2 separate regions of the Homo sapiens genome follow, and region 2 is linked to region 1. Evidence: fine-mapped expression QTL. A gene starts in region 1. The other region holds a variant in brackets. All regions are shown on one strand. Distances are from middle to middle.

Evidence for each region. PIP is the estimated chance that this variant, and not a neighbour inherited with it, causes the effect.
Region 2: its variant is the best candidate, but not a certain one, in a credible set for the expression of KDM1B in whole blood (TOPMed, PIP 0.81).

The regions. Positions count from the first base shown.
Region 1 is chr6:18,152,849-18,157,374 of GRCh38, forward strand. KDM1B (lysine demethylase 1B) reads left to right here and starts at 2,574. Exons shown (of 22, transcript NM_001364614.2): 1 at 2,574-2,723; 2 at 3,035-3,078. TPMT (thiopurine S-methyltransferase) reads right to left here and starts at 2,229. Exons shown (of 9, transcript NM_000367.5): 1 at 2,185-2,229. RefSeq lists a silencer at 2,275-2,834 and an enhancer at 3,275-3,514.
Region 2 is chr6:18,204,264-18,208,263 of GRCh38, forward strand. KDM1B (lysine demethylase 1B) reads left to right here. Exons shown (of 22, transcript NM_001364614.2): 15 at 1,274-1,401; 16 at 3,135-3,266; 17 at 3,869-3,943. Among named protein-coding and RNA genes, the nearest start is that of KDM1B, 51 kb to the left of the region's middle. The variant A/G (reference allele first, on the strand shown) is at 2,274.

The DNA.
Region 1 (4,526 bases):
CCCCCTGATGCTGCCCCTCCTTTTGTGCCTGATAAGAGATCACAGACCACAGAATGGTTCTGGCCAGTCTACTGAGAATGCACAGTAAGGGTTTTTCTGTCCTCTGCTTCACCTTTTGATATAAGAGGGCCAAAAACTCCATCCTGTGATTGTGGTAACACCGCCATTTTTTGTGCATGGTACCCATGAAGCTCAATTACTCATGGGTACTTTCCTCCTTTCATAAATATTCATGAGTCATCCTACAGCTTACTGAATATGTATATTTGGCCACCTTCCTCAGCATAAATTCCTGTTCCCTTTGCCCCTCCCTGGAAGTGTCAGTTTCTGGCTTCTGGCCTGCGGCTACACTTCTCAGCCAGTCAGAATGGCTGCTCTACAGTCTGAAACCATTCATGAGAAAGAGTTCTCCTTTCTAAATTATGAACTTCTCATTCTTCAGCTGACAGACCATAACTGCAGATCCATCTGAATGTATGAGGAAAATGCCTTTCCTTTCAATGTCAACTCTGCAATATTAAGGACAATATAACACCATTATTCTAACATTCCCTTTAAATCATTAGTGAAACTAGTTTGGATTATACTAGCATGCTATTATTGGTGGTTCTAATTTAATGATTAATCTGTGAAATAGCAAACATTGCATAAAAGCATGTATTTCAGGCAAATTTCCCCTTTTGTTGCCAAATTTGGCCTCAGTATGCTTAGGATATAGGGAGGAGGCATTTCTCTCATTACCTGGGAACATGAATTCACTTCTTAGCAAATATTTGTTGACAAATGGCTTCTGCAAGACCCTGATGGTATCAGGAGGTGACTCTGAGTTTTCTGAGAGGTCAGTAGAAAGTATCTGATTTATATTGGGTACAGAAAAGCAAAAGAATGTTGCAGTTTTCTCATTTTCATTCAGAAACTCTGGAACCTAAATTCAAGGCTTCATAAAGCAGTTCTCTACTTAAAAGAGAAGCATAATCTTTATCAGAGTTCCACAGCAGCCTGGAGTAGCACAACTCTATTCCTTTCACACAAACTTGAACTGTCTAACAAAATCATGCACATAACTTAATCATGTCTTAGTTGTTTGTTTTTGAGACAGGGTCTCTCTCTATCCCCCAGGCTGGAGTGCAGTGGTGTAATGACACTTCCGTCTCCAACACTGGGGCTCAAGCGATCCTCTCACTTCAACCTCCTGAGTACCTGGGACTATAAGGGTGCACCACCATGCCTGGCTAATTTTTAAATATTTTGTAGAGACAGGGTCTTGCTATGTTACCCAGGCTGGTCTCAAACTCCTGGGCTCAACGTCTTAGCTGTTCTAACAGTTTCTCAGCATGGACTCCACTTGTATACATCATTTCTAGAGAAATAAAGTTTATTTCTATAATACAAAAAAAGTGCACATTACAAGAATTAAGGAAGGGAAATTTCACAAAAATTTCTGCCCACAAACAAAGTCCTCAAGTTGTTCTAGTCTCCATTCTCACCTTTTCAAAAGCTTCTGCTATAGTTTTGTTTTTAAATTTCATAAAATTGAGAAGAAACTTTCCTAAGGTGCACACATCTTAAAAGAGTATGACTCGGTGAATTTTTTACATATACATACACCTGTGTAACCACCGCAGAGCAAGACAGAATATTTACAGCACCCCAGTTTCCCACATCACCAGGGATCACTCACTATTTGGCAGTACTTATTTTTTCCCAAAAATCACTAATACACCAGGCTGGGGAAAAAACCGAGAGTCCGTTTCTATAAAAAAAAATTTGAAAAATTAGCCAAGCGTGGTGCAGCGAGCCTGTAGTCCCAGTTACCGAGGAGGCTGGGGCGGGAAGATCACTTGAGCCCAGGAGTTCCAGGTTACAGTGAGCTATGATTGTGCCACTGCACGCTAGCATGGGCGACAGAGGGAGACCCTGTCTCTAAAAGAAAAAAGAAAAAAAAATAATTAAAACACACCAGTGCTTTGGAAGCACTTTAAATCCTGGACATTGGATTCAGGTCATTTACTGTCCGACCTCGTTATTCCCAGTTTCCGCTTCTGCCCTGAACCCCACTTCACAGGGCTGATTGCTAGGCTGTCTACGCTTGTAAGAATTCCTGGGAGCCCTAGCACGGGCGCATACACTCCTAGCAAATCGTTCCCTTTCTCACCCGCACCCTCCGCGCCCGAGTGAGCCTACCTCGCTTACAGCTGGTTGCCGGCCATTGCCTCCGCCACCAATGACGTCCCCAGGGGCGGGTACGCCTCCGCTTCCACCTCCGCCACTTCTCCGCGCCCCGCCTCCGCCCGCGCCCCGCCTCCGCCCGCGCCCCGCCTCCGCCCGCGCCCCGCCTCTTTCCCGCGCCCCGCCTCTTTCCCGCGCCCCGCCTCAGTTCCCGCCCCCTCTCCCGGCGCCCCGTCTCCACTCCCGCCCCGTACCTCGTTGCACAGACTCCACCCACTTCCCCAAGCGCCGGGGTTTGCGCAGCGGCGGAAATGGGCAGGGCGGAGCGAGCGCTGCGGCTAAAGCGAAGGCGGGGACCCTACCCATCCCTAGTCCTGTCGGCTCCTCCCACCCCGGGTCACGCCGTGACAGGGGCGGAAGCGGCGGCGGCGGCGGCGGCCGAGAAGAGGCTGGGGCTCGCGGCGCGGCTGCAGCCGTCCTGTGCGCGCGGCGCGCGGCTCCGGAGAGGCGCCCGCAGTCCAGGGCGGCGCGCACCGCCTCGCTGGCGCTCAGAGGTGGGAGGCTCCCCACTCCGGGGGCGTGCGTGGGGGCCGTGGCGGATTTCGGGTGACAGCGTTGCACAAAGCAGCTTGGTTGGGGTGCAAGCCCTCCCTTTCCCCCTGTGCAGCGCCCCTCGCCGTGGTGGGAGGTGGGCGGGTGCCCCAGGGACGGATACCTCCTGCCCCGGATTAAAAGAGGGTGCGGGGTGGGTATCTGTCTGAAGAAGGGGGAATTCCCGGGCTAGGGTGTTGGGGCGTGGGGTCGCCGGGTTCGTCGCGATGTTGCCGGTCGGCTAACCCCCCTACAATGTTTCCTTTCTGTACAGCGGTGCCTTTTCCCCGAGACTCCCGGCACCTCTTCAGCGCAAAGGTGAGCCCCGGGGCAGTTGCTTCTCCGACTTCGAAAAGCTTCCGAAAGCTTCTCGGAAAGCGAGGCGGCTGCAGCTGGCACCGGGAGTTTGGGGCTCCCTCCTGGGGACTGTCAGAGCCGCGGGAGAACCCCACGGTCCTGGAGTAGGAACTCCCTCGCTTGTTCTTCCCGGCCGATAGGGTGCGGCCAGGAGCCCGCACAGCCTTGCAGGTGTTGTAGTAATTCTCTGGCACAGCCACCACGCGTTGAGACTTGATGAGCATTGCCAGGTTGCTGGGGTAACTCCTCTGGGATTGGAGACCTGGAGGAGGGGTGGCCCGATTAGGGTAGCTGTTAGTCAACGGCCGGGCAGCTGACAGGTGAAAGAGGAAGGAAGAGGCCGACCCAGCTGTAGAAAGTTGGGGTTCAGTGATGTGGAAACCAGCCACATAGAAGTCCAGTCTTCCCTTGGGTAAGCCTGCAGGACTCCCCAGTCCACTCCAGTTGGGGAATCCCCCACACCACGTATACACACATAACTCAAGGCTTTGACCAGTTTTGTTTTGTGTTTTTAAATCTATTTTAGTGGCAGAAAGGCGAGTGGGAGAGAAGGCTTCTTCAGGAGGTACATGAGAAAATTACCATCAATAATTATTTGCCTTGCTGGGAGAATCAACAAAAGATATCTAGGCAATTGGGGATTTAATATTGAATCATTGAACTGCATGTTGAATATTGAATAATTCAATATTGAATTATTCAATATTGGGAGGCCGAGGTGGGCGATCACTTGAGGTCAGGAGTACTTCAAGACCAGCCTGGCCAAGGTGGTGAAACCTGGTCTCTACTAAAAATACAAAAATTAGCCGGACGTGGTGGCACACACCTGTAATCCCAGCTACTCGGGAGGCTGAGGCAGAAGAATCGCTTGAACCCAGGAGGTGGATGTTGTAGTGAGCCGAGATCGCACCACTGTACTCCAGCCTGAGCCACGGAGGAAGACTCCGTCTCAAAAAAAAGAAAAAATCTTTTTGAATAAGCTGCTTCAGAAAAACCTAGGGATTATTATAATGAAATCTACATATTGATATATCCACTTATATATTTACCAAAAAATCCCACTTTTTTATCACATTAAAAGAAAACCAAAGCCAAATTTTAAATGCTTGAATTAAAAATTAGAAATATATGTATAATGTTGAGCATGAAACCAATTGGTTATATTTAGGTGTGTTTATTAATTTGAAAAATCAAGAAGGAAGACATTTTAGTATACTAAAAATTTTTTCTTCATTTTAAGACCTAAGGACCCAGCAAGTGGAGATATATAAATTACATCAAGTGCCAAAAGTTCTGAGAATGGATTCATATAACCCTCAATTGTATAAAGTTGAAAATATGCTATCATAAAAACCCTCGATAAGATTTAATAATGGCTTTTATAGCTCATGTTTTCATTTCCTTGTTAA
Region 2 (4,000 bases), 51 kb after region 1:
TTCTTGAGCTCAGGAGTTTGAGACCAGCCTGGGCAACATGGTGAAACCCATCTCTACTAAAAATTCAAAAATTAGCTGGGCATAGAGGCGGGCGCCTGTAGTCCCAGCTACTTGGGAGGCCGATTGCTGGAGCCCCGGAAGTTGAGGCTGCAGTGAGTCGGAATGGCACCACAGCACTCCAGCCTGGGTGACATGGTGAGACCCTATCTCAGGAAAAAAAAGAAAAAGAAAACACCACCAGAAAAAGAAACGTGGAGTCTGTGATACATGTTTTGGATGGTTGTCATCACTGGAACAGTTGTAAAGAAGTAACCTGTACTGAGATGCTTAGAATTAGTCAGACATCAAGCCAGAACCCTCTTCCAGCCCTGCTATAAAGGAATGTAAGACAAAAATGATATCACAGGGCTGTGTCCATATAGTTACAAGGTCCGGTTGAGTGGGACAGATAAGTAAGGGCTGGAGTTGATGACAGGGAGAAATTCTGGGGGCTTGCCACGGCCCGGTGATGCCCGACTATAAAGAATGGATGGGATTGGGTGGGAGAAGGCATTCCCATGAGGGAGAGTGGGAGGTCGCAGACCCTGCAGGGTAGGAATTTACCAGGAAAAAGATTCAAAGCATTACAGCAGAGCCTGCGAGTGGGCAGATCGTAGCTGCTGCCTTTGGAAAGATTAAAATGTGCTAGCTTTGCCTGGCTGTGGTTGGGGAATTTATTACATAGGCAACCAGTAATTGTAGATATGGAGGCGGAGTGCTGACAAGATACAAGCCCATAATGGAATATTCTTGTTTGGGACAGACTGTAGCCAATAGGTTACAGGTCTCTTAGTTGAGGTGAGATGTTGTAAGCATTGACTTTAAGGTGATGGCAGCAGGACCAGAAAGAGAATGGTAACTTCTGTGTGTGTGCATGTACATCTATGTGTGGGGACAGTTTTTCTGTATCTTGAGCAAAAGAGGAAACCACTTCTCAACGAAGCGAAATTGAGACGTTTCTGAAGATATAGAACTTACATAGCTTTGTTTCCGGTTGTGCACATGTACCCTAAAACTTAAAGTATAATAATAATAAAATTAAAAAAAAAGATAAACTTTCTCTTCCTGAGAGAAATGGACCTTATCAAGAGATCTTTTCCCCTCTGACTTTACTTGGGAAAAGACTTTGGAAGTTTTGGGTGTTGCTGGGTGACAGAGGTTGAAAGCAAAGGAGAAAGAATTGGAGAATCTTGTTAAAGCTATTTTTTTCTGCTTTGATCCATTCCCATTACAGAAAAGATAGAAGAAATCTACAAGGCATTTATTAAGGAATCTGGTATCCAATTCAGTGAGCTGGAGGGACAGGTGCTTCAGTTCCATCTCAGTAACCTGGAGTACGCCTGTGGCAGCAACCTTCACCAGGTGCGCTTGGGTTTTGTGAAAGGTGTGCTTTGAAAATACTTGGTTTAGGCCGGGCGCAGTGGCTCACGCCTGTAATCCCAGCACTTTGGGAGGCCGAGGTGGGCAGATCATGAGGTCAGGAGATCGAGACCATCCTGGCCAACATGGTGAAACCCTGTCTCTACTAAAATACAAAAAATTAGCCAGGCCTGGTGGCGCATACCTGTAGTCCCAGCTACTCGGGAGGCTGAGGCAGGGGAATCGCTTGAACCTGGGAGGCGGAAGTCGTAGTGAGCTGGGATCGCGCCACTGCACTCCAGCCTGGAGTCTCAAAATAAATAAATAAATAAAATACTTGTTTTTGTGTATGTGTGTGTGTGTTTTGTGTGTCTAAATATTGAATTTGAGCTGGTTTCGATAAACAGGAAAGAATGATTCTCCTTAAAAGTTTGAAAACCATGACTTCTGAGCATATTAACCCCACAGTGGTTTTGGTTGTTTTTTAAACTTTTTTTTTTTTTTTAAGCAAGAGAAACTCTTCTTCAGATAATGCTTGTGAAAGAAGCTCAATACGTAAAAACAAAGGAAGAGGCTGGGTGCAGTGGCTCCCTTCTGTAATCCCAGCACTTTGAGAGGCCAAGACAGGCGGATTGTTTGAGCCCAGGAGTTCAAGACCATCCTGGGCAACATGGCAAAATCCTGTCTCTACAAAACATACAAAAAATTAGCTGGGCTTAGTGGCATGTGCCTGTAGTCCCAGCTAAGTGGGAGGCTGAGGTGGGAGGATTGCTTGATCCCAGGAGTTCAAAGCTGCAGTTAGCTGTGATGGTGCTACCACACTGCTGCCTGGGCGATAGAGTGAGACCCTGTCTAGGGGGAGAAAAAAGAAATCA[A/G]TCACTCCAAAGGAAGGAGGGCTATTGGGCTGAATCAGATCAGGGTCTCTTATGTTTTTCTTATTTTTTGTAGAGATGGGGTCTTGCCATGTTGCCTAGTCTGGTCTTGAACTCCTGGTCTCAAGTGATCCTCCTGCCTCGGCCTCCCAAAATGCTGGAATTACAGGCATGAGCCACTGCACCAGGACTTGTCTCTTTACCGTCCTTTCCCTGCCCTCTGCAGAGGGCCTTGGGTCATTTCTGTGGAACCGTGGAGTCGGAAACACTGCTCTCGAGAAGCCAAAATAGAGTATCCTTGCAAGTCTGGTCTGTTTACCTTGTTAAAGTAAATTTAAGCTTGCCTAACTCATTTAACCAACTGTGAACTTAATACCCCAGTATTCTGTATTTTGAATAGAACTCCACGGATGATTTCAGAGGCCCCTTTGGGACCTCTCCATTTCCACTTGGTTCTGCATTGTGATTGGAGTCATGCTATTTTCCAAAATCGTGCAGGGTTTCTATTCTGTAGAGCTTCCATGTTGAGGACAGATAGCATATTTATATATGTTGATCAAATACAGTTTTACCCTCATAGAATTCTACTTTGCCAGAGTTGTCAATATAGAAAATCAGCTTCTATTTTTATCAAGGAGTGGTACCCATGTCCAAGTCATATGGACCTTTTGTTCTCAAATAAACTTTCCTCAAATAAAATTATCGAGATTTCCTCCCCCAGTGGTGGTCTCTGCCTAGGCTGGTCTGCCTGTCCCCTGCCCTCCTGCCTTGGTGGCTGTTCCCACCTGGAGCTCCTCATATTGGCTCTCAGGCACAGGCACAAGGATTTACACTGCTGTGTCCCCAACCTCTCTTGTTTCCCAGGTATCTGCTCGCTCGTGGGACCACAATGAATTCTTTGCCCAGTTTGCTGGTGACCACACTCTGCTAACTCCCGGGTACTCGGTGATAATTGAAAAACTGGCAGAAGGGCTTGACATTCAACTCAAATCTCCAGTGAGTATCAACTGCTGGGAGGCTCTGGCTCGCCTTGTTTGGGGAGGATGTGAAGTTCTGGGCATGCGGCTCACGCAGGAGAATGGGGCTGGCTTTGGTGTTTAGCCAGGGTCTAGAAGTACTTTTGTGGCTCATTCGTAGCCTGTGTAGCATTATCCATGTCAGTGAGGCAGCTGCTGCTGCTTGGAAACCGTAGTGGCCCCAGTGCATTTCTATTAAGAAGAAGGTATTCAAATTGCTTCGCAACTTTCCTAACCCAGTGCAGTTATTTTCACTTTAAAATTTTCCCTTCAAATCTTTGTCTCAGTGCATTTGTATTGTGTGTTATTGTAATCATGGGGGTGATTACTTAACTGTATTTCCCTTCACACCATATTATAACTATCTTCTATATTCCGACACAATGTTTATTTTGTATATTCTGACAGAGTATAAATTCTAACTCCCTCAGTTCAGCTATAACAATTGTTTAGATCTCTGAATGCCAGGAAAAGATTCCCCTTAGCCTTGGAGATGTAAATTCATGTAATATGAGAATCGGAAAGGATCCTGGATCACGTGGTTCCATCCCTCACTTTTTTTCATAATTGCTTTTTGAGCAGGTGCAGTGTATTGATTATTCTGGAGATGAAGTGCAGGTTACCACTACAGATGGCACAGGGTATTCTGCACAAAAGGTAAGAGCTAGGGCAGTACAAGGGTGGGTAGAAACCTTTGCTGCCAGGGGCTTGGAG